Regions from separate parts of the Homo sapiens genome. Here all the other regions are linked to region 3. Evidence: fine-mapped expression QTL. A gene starts in region 3. Each other region holds a variant in brackets. All regions are shown on one strand. Distances are between the middles of the regions. Region 1 has its middle 37 kb from the start of VCL. Region 2 overlaps AP3M1 (adaptor related protein complex 3 subunit mu 1). Region 3 holds the start of VCL (vinculin). Region 4 has its middle 25 kb from the start of VCL.

Evidence for each region. PIP is the estimated chance that this variant, and not a neighbour inherited with it, causes the effect. A credible set is the group of variants that fine-mapping cannot tell apart.
Region 1: its variant is the best candidate, but not a certain one, in a credible set for the expression of VCL in whole blood (TOPMed, PIP 0.57).
Region 2: its variant is the best candidate, but not a certain one, in a credible set for the expression of VCL in whole blood (INTERVAL, PIP 0.66).
Region 4: its variant is the best candidate, but not a certain one, in a credible set for the expression of VCL in whole blood (TOPMed, PIP 0.67).

The regions. Positions count from the first base shown.
Region 1 is chr10:73,959,425-73,962,113 of GRCh38, forward strand. No RefSeq gene overlaps it. Among named protein-coding and RNA genes, the nearest start is that of VCL, 37 kb to the right of the region's middle. RefSeq lists a silencer at 467-761. The variant C/T (reference allele first, on the strand shown) is at 1,550.
Region 2 is chr10:74,131,550-74,134,238 of GRCh38, forward strand. It overlaps AP3M1 (adaptor related protein complex 3 subunit mu 1), which reads right to left. Exons shown (of 9, transcript NM_012095.6): 4 at 2,478-2,615. Among named protein-coding and RNA genes, the nearest start is that of AP3M1, 18 kb to the right of the region's middle. The variant A/G (reference allele first, on the strand shown) is at 1,597.
Region 3 is chr10:73,996,446-73,999,101 of GRCh38, forward strand. VCL (vinculin) reads left to right here and starts at 1,671. Exons shown (of 22, transcript NM_014000.3): 1 at 1,671-1,930. The coding sequence starts at 1,763. RefSeq lists silencers at 1,280-1,639, 1,970-2,019 and enhancers at 1,700-1,899, 1,972-2,623.
Region 4 is chr10:73,971,598-73,974,286 of GRCh38, forward strand. No RefSeq gene overlaps it. Among named protein-coding and RNA genes, the nearest start is that of VCL, 25 kb to the right of the region's middle. The variant C/T (reference allele first, on the strand shown) is at 1,504.

The DNA of each region.
Region 1 (2,689 bases), 37 kb before region 3:
TCCTGCCTCAGCCTCTTGAGTAGCTGGGACTACAGGCGTGTACCATCACACCTGGCTAATTTTTGTATTTTTAGTAGAGATGGGGTTTCACCATGTTGGTCAGGCTGGTCTCAAACTCCTGACCTCAGGCGATCCACCCGCCTTGGTCTCCCAAAGTGCTGGGATTCCAGCCGTGAGTCACTGTGCTTGGCCATGGTTTACTTCTTAATGCCTATTATTGGTCAAGGCTTAATTAGAGAAGCAGAATTATCAGGCACGGCATAGAGTAAGATGTTTCTTGTGGGGTTTTGGTGTTATGCAATGTGGGAACTGGTTAAGCAGTTTGTATACAACAGTTGCTTCTGTTTCTGGTGCTGGGACTGAAGTCAGAAATAACAGGTAGACATGAAGTATGGGACAGTAAGGACCAGTGGGAGTCCAAAAGAACCAGAGGGCACCCACAGGATGAAATAGAGCCTGTATCAATGTCTCACTGCCTCTAAAACTTCCTACTTCAATTATGTGGGCGACCTGCAGGAATTGCTGAACCTTCATCATAAAGCTGAACACAGACCTGACTCAGGGACTGAAAATGCTGAAGGAAGATCTGTCATGGGAGCTGAAGGAGATGTAGGCTCAAGTCTATCCCATGGCCACAGGGTGAGCTAGCAGATCTGAGATACCATAAGTTAGAACGGCACCTGCCTCTACACTGACCTTCTGAGCATAAGCATGTTTGCTTCACCTCTGCCCTCCAATCTTGTGCAAATTTTCTGTGGCCAACCCTAGCCCAGAACCATACAGAGAAAGAAATTCTGAAAAACATAGTTTCAGTTTAGCTAAACTGACATAGTACAAAGCCACTATGTATTTGCCAAACCTTCTTCAATTAGCATGGTTTTGTTTGTTTGTTTGTTTGAGACAGAATCTCACTCTGTCACCCAGGCTGGAGTGCAGTGGCACTATCTGGGCTCCCTGCAACCTCCACCTCCCGGGTTCCAGTGATTCTCCTGCCTCAGTCTCCTGGGTATCTGGGATTACAGGTGCATGCCACCACACCTGGCTAATTTTTGTATTTTTTAGTAGAGATAGGGTTTCACCATGTGGGCCAGGCTCGTCTCAAACTCCTGACCTCAAGTGATTCACCCACCTCAGCATGTATTATTTTCATAACCAGGAGAAAGAACACCCTTTAAAACATCTCAAAATACCCAAATGGCTAATAAATATACAAAAAGACACCAATTCATTAATTGGCAAGAAAATGCAAGTTAAAATACAATAAGATATCCTTGTACATTCACCAGAATGGCTAAAATGAAAAAGACAGACAACACAGTATTGGTGAGGACATAGAGCAACTGGAACTTTCACATGTGGCTAGTGAGAATGTAAATTGCCAGTTTAGAAAACCATTTGACAACTATCAAAGTGGAACATATGCAAAAGGTGTGATAAGCAATTACGTTTCTAAAAAAATGCATGTTCATATACATAAAAACATCTATACGAATGTTTGGCTGGGTGTGGTGGCTCACGCCTGTAATCCAAGCACTTTGGGAGGCCGAGG[C/T]GGGTGGATCACGAGGTCAGGAGATCGAGACCATCCTGGCTAACATGGTGAAACCCTGTCTCTACTAAAAATACAAAAAATTAGCCAGGCGTGGTTGCAGACGCCTGTAGTCCCAGCTACTCAGGAGGCTGAGGCGAGAGAATGGCGTGAACCCAGGAGGCAGGGCTTGCAGTGAGCCGAGCCGAGATCGCGCCACTGCACTCCAGCCTGGGCGACAGAGCGGGATTCTGTCACCAAAAAAAACACGAAAAAACAATGTTCATAGTGGCACTATATGTAAAAGCTAAGAACAGAAACAATTCAAATGTCCACCAACAATAGAATGGATAAATAAATCATGGTGAATTCATACAATGGAGTGCTACACAGCAACGGGAATAAATAATGTATCACTAAGCACAACCACATGGATGACTATCACAACCATAATATTACATGGAAGATATCAGACACAGAAGAGCATATACTGATGGTTCCATTTATGTCAAGTTCAAAAATAGGTAAAATTAATCTATGCTGTTCACCCATGGATAAGAATTACCCTTGGGAGATTAGTGACTAGAAGGTGTCAAGAGGGGGCTTTTGGGGTGCTCGCGATGTTCTGTTCCTTCCTTTAGGTATTAGTCACTCGGGAGTGTTTTGCCTTTTGCAAATTTATAGATATTTATGTAATTTGTATATGGTTTGTGCACTTTTCTGTATATATGTTATACCAACAAAAAGTTAATTAAAAGAAAAAATTAGTAGTCCCTGGTTCTGGTAACTAACAATAACTACTCATTATACCACAAGTTGAGGGGATCAAATACAAAAATGTGTATTACAGTGTTTGGAGAAACAACTGGGGAATACATAGATGTAGGGACAAGGAAAGAGAATAGAATGTTGAACCTGGTTTGGTATTGAACCTGGTTTTTTGAGTTTTTTTTTTTTTTGAGACAGAGTCTTGCTCTGTCGCCTAGGCTGGAGTGCCGTGGCATGATCTCAGCTCACTGCAACTTCCGCCTCCTGGGTTCAAGTAATTCTCCTGCCTCAGCCTCCTGAGTAGCTGGGACTACAGGCGTGTGCCACCATGCCTGGCTAATTTTTTTGTATTTTTTAGTACAGACAGGGTTTCACCACATTGCCCAGGCTGGTCTC
Region 2 (2,689 bases), 140 kb after region 3:
ATCTCTTTTTTTTTAAGAGACAGGGTCTCCCTCTGCCATCCAGGCTGGAGTACAGTGGTGTGAACATAGTTCACCACAGCATTGAACTCCTGGGCTCAAGCAATCCTCCTGCCTCAGCCTTCTGAATAGGTAGGATTAAGGAAGCCATGCCTAGCTAATCTTTTAAATTTTTGATAGATATGGGGTCTTGCTATGTTGCCTAGGCTGGTCTTGAACTCCTGGGCTCAAGTGATCTTCCTGCCTAAGCCTCCCAAAGTGCTGGGATTACAGGTGTGAGCCACCGTGCCTGGCAAAAATCTATTATTCTATAAGATGGAATGTTATAATGAAAAGGGGACTCATGGAAGAGAAGATATTGACTATAATTCACAATAAGCCATCATTACATATTAACAAGTTGTGTGACCTGGAACAGTTCACTTAACCCTTCTGGGCTTTCCTTATGTGTAAAATAAATGTAAAGGAAGGACTAGATTTTTTTTCTTTTTTCTTTTTTTGTTTTTTTAGAGATGGAGTCTCACTCTGTCACCCAGGCTGGAGTGCAGTGGTGCAATCTTGGCTCACTGCAACCTCTGCCTCCCAGGGTCAAGCAATTCTCCTGCCTCAGCCTCCCAAGTAGCTGGGTTTACAGGCGCCTGCCACCACGCCCAGCTAATTTTTGTATTTATAGTAGAGACGGGGTTTTACCATGTTGGCCAGGCTGGTCTCAAACTCCTGACCTCAAGTGATCTGCCTGCCTCGGCCTCCCAAAGTGCTGGAATTACAGGCGTGATCCACCATGCCCGGCTGCTATTTTTAATAATAAAATTTTACGATTCTTATAGAGTACTATTGTTTTGTCTGGTTAAAAAGATAATCAGATTGGGTGTGGTGGCTGATGCCTGTAATCCCAGCACTTTGGGAGGCTGAGGTAGGTAAACTGATTGAGCCCAGGAGTTCAAGACCAGCCTGGGCAACATGGTGAGACCCTGTCTGTACAAAAAAAACAAATAAAAGTTAGCCAGGCATGGTGGCGTGTGGCGTGTACCTCCTGATTGGCTGGGACTATAGGCTACTCAGGAGTTTGAGGTAGGAGGATCACATGAGCTGGAGGTCAAGGCTACAGTAAGCAGGGACTGCGCCAATGCACTCCAGCCTAGGCAAAAGAGCAAGACCCTGTACTTAAAAAAAAAAAAGAAAGTGAAAAATAATCAGATAGGGGCTTTTACCAGAAGTACTGCACATAATGTAGTAGCAAAAGCATGGTATATAGCAGATTTTCAATAAATGTTAGAAGGAATAAATAGCAAGAGGTAGAGGTACATAGGGTAATAATTGGCTTAAAGTAAGGCATTATGAGTTCTGATTTACATGTTTGGCAGACCTCAACTAGTGGTTATGAAAATTATATGTAACCTATGGGCAAAATAAACAGATTTATGGGCCAGGTGCAGTGGCTCACGCCTGTAATCCCAGCCCTTTGGGAGGCCAAGGCAGGTGGATCACTTGAGGTTAGGAGCTTGAGACCAGCCTGGCCAACATTGTGAAACCCCGTCTCTACTAAAAATACAAAAAATTAGCCAGGGCCGGGAGCGGTGGCTCACGCCTGTAATCCTA[A/G]CACTTTGGGAGGCCGAAACGGGCAGATCACCTAAGTTCAGGAGTTCGAGACCAGCCTGACCAACGTGGAGAAATCCCATCTCCACCAAAAACACAAAATTAGCTGGGCATGCTGGTGCATGCCTGTAATCCCAGGTACTCGGGAGGCTGAGGCAGAAGAACTGCTTGAACCCGGGAGGCGGAGGTTGCGGTGAGCTGAGATTGCACCATTGCACTCCACCCTGGGCAATAAGAGTGAAACTGCGTCTCAAAAAAAAAAAAAAAATTTAGCCAGGTGTGGTGGCTCATGCCTGTAATCCCAGCTACTTGGGAAGCTGAAGCAGCAGGATCGCTTGAATCCAGGAGGTGAAGGTTCCAGTGAGCCAAGATCATGTGATTGCACTCCAGCCTGGACAACAGTGTGAGACCCCGTCTCAAATAAATAAATAAATAAACAAACAGATTTAAAAATCATCAGATAATGAATGCCTTTCCACCGAAACCATACTGCCAAAGGACTTCAATTTTCTTTTCCTTTCTTCTTCTTTTTTTTTTTTTTGTTGAGACAGAGCCAGGCTGGAGTGCAATGGCATGATCTTGTCTCATTGCAACCTCTGCCTCCTGGGTTCAAGCAATTTTCCTGCCTCAGCCTCCCGAGTAGCTGGGATTACAGGTGCGCGCCACCATGCCCGGCTAATTTTTTGTATCTTTAGTAGAGACAGAGTTTCACCATGTTGGCCAGGCTGGTCTCGAACTCTGACCTCATGTTCCGCCTGCCTTGGCCTCCCAAAGGGCTGGGATTACAGGCGTGAGCCACCGCGCCCGGCCAGGACTTCAGTTTTCTATTCATCTGTGTCAGATGAATTGTTTTTCCCCAAATAAGATGACATGCACACAATTACCTGATTTATCTATAATTGCGTCTATTTCTTCAACAACATCAAAATAGGCTTCATTGTTTGTGTACTTTACCCCTGCCCGACGCCATGGTATGTTGGACAGCTGCCCGGTGGGGAGTGTGTCCCCAACATTACTACTGCCTAGAAACCAAAAAAGGAGAAGGCAAAGCTGATGTATAAAACAGTCATGAGAAAATTTATTACTAGGAAAAAAA
Region 3 (2,656 bases):
TTTGTATTTTTAGTTGAGACGGGGTTTCACCAGGTTGGCCAGGCTGGTCTTGAACCCCTGACCTCAGGTGATCTGCCTGCCTCAGCCTCCCAAAATGCTGGGATTACAGGCGTGAGCCACCGTGCCTGGCCCCATCACCCAAATATTTATACTATTAACACAAAGTAATGGGCAGAGAAAACAGCTGTGGTGGTTGTGGTAGGACTAGACAAAAATTTTCATTTGATGTGAGAATCTTTTGCTTGGAGGCATTACTGAAAGTGTTTACCTCAGAATGGGAAAGCTTGGGCAAAAGCGAATTTGAAGTAAGTAAGACGTTTGGAAGATGTCTTTTTTTTTTTTTTTTTTTTTTTGAGACAGAGTCTTGCTCTGTCGCCCAGGATGGAGTGTAGTGGCGCGATCTCCGCTCACTGCAAGCTCCGCCTCCCGGGTTCACGCCATTGTCCTGCCTCAGCCTCATGAGTAACTGGGACTACAGGCGCCCGCCACCACGCCTGGCTATTTTTTTTGTATTTTTAGTAGATACGGGGTTTCACCGTGTTAGACAGGATGGCCTAGATCTCCTGACCTCGTGATCCGCCCGCCTCAGCCTCCCAAAGTGCTGGGATTACAGGCGTGAGCCATCGCGCCCGGCCTGGAAGATGTCTTATACAAAGCGTGAGGGAACTGGATAATTTGGTCTTACCTATCAAAATATAAAATGCATATACTTTTGCGTTTTTCTCTTTCCTGGTAGGCATTTGCGCTAGATAAATACACAGATGCACAGCACAGGGGTAAGTACAATTCATGCAGAATTGTTTTTTAATAGTGAAAACCAGGACCCAACCCAAGTCCATGAGTAGGAAATTGGTTCTGTAAATAGTTTTATTTCATGCAATGGAATATCATGCAGTCATTAAGAAGAATGAGGTAGACCTCTACCAGCAGTGAAAGATAAGGGCATTTTAATCAAGGGCAATCATACCTAGTTCCAGGAAAATGTTTATTAATCTCATTTAGTTAGAAAATATATATGTAGAAGTGAATCTATAGACAAGTCTAGAAGGCTACACACCCAGCTGTTAAACAGAATGTCTTTGAGGAGGGCAGGGGGCGGAGTCTGCGTTTACGTGAATGGGACGCTGCTGTTTCTCAGTGCACCTCTGCTGTTTGAATCTTTTACTAAAAACCTTCCCATGCATTGCTGGGAGGGAATGGAAGGAGTATTTTGAGGGTTTCGTGTGAAGGGAAAAGTTGAGGAGGGGACGTGGGAGACCCCTTGGTCTCATCAAACTCTAGCGCCGCTTGAGGTGAGGAGACCCCGCCCCGCTGAGGTGATTCTGCAGAGGGGCGGAGCCCCCCAGATCCGAGGCGGGAGGCGGCCCGGGGGCGGGACCAGCCGGCTCCAGCGGCCCGCTCCGCTCCCACCATGCCCTTATAAGGAGCGCCCGGCGTTAGGGCTCGGGAATCCGGTAGCAATCCCGGCGGCTCAGCCCCAATCCCAGGCCCCTCCCTTAGGAATGGGGGAGGGGCGGGGTTTGGCGGCGCGGTGGCTGGGGCGGAGCATCTCGAAAAGGGACCAGTAGGAGTGGCGGCCCAGGTCTGAGCTGCGCTGCCATTGGGCGCGGCGACGAGAGGGGGCGGGGAGCCCGTGAGGCTGGTTACGCCGAGGGAAGCCCCGACTCCGTAGTCGCTGCACAGTCTGTCTCTTCGCCGGTTCCCGGCCCCGTGGATCCTACTTCTCTGTCGCCCGCGGTTCGCCGCCCCGCTCGCCGCCGCGATGCCAGTGTTTCATACGCGCACGATCGAGAGCATCCTGGAGCCGGTGGCACAGCAGATCTCCCACCTGGTGATAATGCACGAGGAGGGCGAGGTGGACGGCAAAGCCATTCCTGACCTCACCGCGCCCGTGGCCGCCGTGCAGGCGGCCGTCAGCAACCTCGTCCGGGTGAGCGCGCAGGGCCTGGCGCGGGAGCGGGCGCGGGAGGTATCCCCGGGGCCCCGGCCCGCGTCGCGGCTGCCTGTGGCCGGCTCGCTGGCCGTGGCTTTCCGCGTGGGTTCCGGAGCCAGGCGCCGAGGGTTCGAATGGCCTCTTCTCCGCCCTGTGACCTTGAGCGAGTCCTGAGCCTCTCCGGGCCTCAGTGTCCTCATCTATAAAATGGGAGCAGTCATGAAAAAGGCTGCCTTGCGGGCTTGTCGTGAAGATATGGCGAGGTATTATTCGTGGAGTGCCTCGCGCGGCGTGTGGCCCACAGCAGACACCCAATAAATGAGAGTTGCTGGGATGTCCGAGGGTCCCTGCCCCGCGCAGGCTTCGCCCCCACGTTGACTTCCTCGCTCTCAGCGCCTTTTAGGCCTCCTCGATCTGGCTGTGCGGGGGAGGGAGAGCGGGCCTTCCCACGGATCCCTTGCCTTCTCTTCTAGGGATCCTTATTTGAGCCACGTTGTCCTCCTTTCTAATACTTCTGCCCCTCACCCTGAGACCCGCCTCGCCCACCCCCGCTCCCCAGAGCTCCCTGTATTCCGCCCTTTTATTCACTTGCCTCACTCTCTGTCGCCTCCTCCTCCCTCCTGGGCATTTTACTTATGCTCACTCCTCTGGCACTCTCACACCTTTATGCAGTCATTCGTGACCACAAGCCCGGTTTTTCCTTCCGCTCAGCCCTGCTGCCCT
Region 4 (2,689 bases), 25 kb before region 3:
TTAAGGGTCAGAAAGGAGTTCGGTTAGAATTTCTTCACTTCAAAGGTCCAAACTATCAATGGAGAAATAAAATTAACTCTTTGTAGACTACACAATTAATATTCATCTCAGGATCAATTTTTGTGAAAAATGGCACCACTACTTCATGAATTATTTTTTGCCCAGGAAATTCTCCCTCCTGATTTGTAAAATGGAAAAGAATAACTAAAGCATGATACAGGCTTTAAGTAAGCAGTCTCCATTTCCTCAGTAAATCTAAAACACAGACAGCAAGGAAACAGGGTCAAAGCACTATTTTCCAGCTTAAAGCACAATTTGGTAACGTAAGAATGCATTTACATTAGTAAATACACAGAATTAAGGTTGATTTCATGCATCTTAAAATTATTTTTTAAATTACAAAAGCAATGCATGCTCATTATAAAAATGCAGCAGTGTGTAAATTATTAATAATAATTACTTTTTTTTTTTGAGACAAGGTCTTGCTCTGTTGCCCATGCTGAAGTGCAGTGGTGCAATCATGTCTCACGGCAGCCTTGAACTCTTGGACTCAAGCAGTTCTCCCACCTCAGCCTCTCAGTGTTGGGATTACAGGCATGAGCCACTGTGGCTGGCCAATAATTACTATTAGTGAACATTACAATGTGCTGGTCACTGGGTTTAGTGCTATCTGATTCAATCCTCACAACAATCTTATGAGGTAGTTATATTTTTCTCCATTTTATAGACAAAGAAACTGAAGCTCAGAGAGTTAAATAAATTGCCTAAGGCAAACATCTTGTAAGAGGTAGAATCAGGATTTGTTTTGTTTTGTTTTGTTTTGTTTGAGACAGAGTCTTACTCTGTCACCCAGGCTGTAGTGCAGTGGCACAATCTCAGCTCACTGCAACCTCTGCCTCCCGGGTTCAAGCGATTCTCCTGTCTCTGCCTCCCAAGTAGCTGGGACTACAGGTGCGTGCCACCACACCGGCAAATTTTTGTATTTTTAGTAGAGACGGGGTTTCACCATATTGGCCAGGCTGGTCTTGAACTCCTGACCTTGTGATCCACCCGCCTCGGCCTCCCAAAGTAGAATCAGGATTTTAAACTATGCAGTTTCACTTCACCATCTAAGCTCTTAAATTCCTTTATACCTTGAGTGAAAGTTCCTATTAACTTCTTCTCCACTTTCCTCGCCCCACATTAACTATCACTTACTGTTCTCCATATATCAGAAAGATAAAAGTTTAATGATTGGAAAATAATCATTGACTTTCTCATAAAAATATCAATTTGGCTGGTCGCAGTGGCTTACGCCTGTAATCCCAGCACTTTGGGAGGCCTAGGCAGGCAGATCACCTGAGGTCAGAAGTTGGAGACTAGCCTGTCCAATATGGAGGAACCCCATCTCTACTAAAAATACAAAATTAGCAGGGCGTGGTGGCACATGCCCGTAATCCCAGCTACCCAGGAAGCTGAGGCAGGATAATCTCTTGAACCCGGGAGGTGGAGGTTGCGGTGAGC[C/T]GAGATCGCGCCATTGCACTCCAGCCTGGGCAACAAGAATGAAATTCCGTCTCAAAAAAAAAAAAAAAAAATCAATTCATGGACCTATGTACATACCCAAGAGGAATGAAAACACATGTCCATACAAAAACGTGTACATGAATGGCCAGGTGTGGTGGCTCACGCCTGTAATCCCAGCACTTTGGGAGGGCGAGGTGGGTGGATCACAAAGTCAGGAGATTGAGACCATCCTGGCCAACACGGTGAAACCCCATCTCTACTAAAAATACAAAAATTAGCTGGGTGTGATGGCACATGCCTGTAATCCCAGTTACTCAGGAGGCTGAGGCACATGAATTGCTTGAACCTGGGAAGTGGAGGTTGCAGTGAGCCGAGATCGAGCCATGCACTCCAGCCTGGGCCACAGAGTGAGAGTCTGTCTCAAAAAACAAACAAAAAACATGAATTTTCATGATAACATTTTTCATAATAGCCAAAAAGTAGAAACCATCCAAATGCCCCATTAACTGGTGATGAATCAGCAAAATGCAATATAGTCAGATATGGAATATTATTTGGTCATAAAAAGGAATGAAGTACTGATACATGCTACAACATTAATAACCTTGAAAACATTTTGCTAAGTGAAAGAAGCTGGTCACAAAGGACCACATAGTGCATGATTCCATTTATATGAAATGTCCAGAGTATGCAAATCTATTGTCACAGAAAGTAGATTAGTGGTACCTAGGACAAGGGGTAGGGATGGTGCAAATGAGTAGGAGGACTGCAAATGAGTAGGAGGTTTCTTTTGGGGTGATAAAAATATTCCAAAATTGGCTGGGCATTACAGGTGACTCATGCCTGTAATCCCAGCACTTTGGGAGGCTGAGGTGGGCAGATTGCTTGAAGCCAGGCATTCAAGGCCAGCCTGGATAACATGGTGAAACCCCAACTCTAGAAAAAATACAAAAAATTACTGTGGTGTGGTGACGCAGTCCTGTAGTCCCAGCTACTCAGGAGGCTGAGGTAGGAGGATTGCTTGAGCCCAGGATGCAGAGGTTGCAGTGAGCCATGATTGCACCACTGCACTCCAGCCTGTCTAACAGAGTGAGACCCTGTCTCAAAAAAAAAAAAAAAAATTCCCAAATTGATTGTGGTGATGGTTGCAAAACTCTGTAAACATACTAAAAATCACTGAATCTTA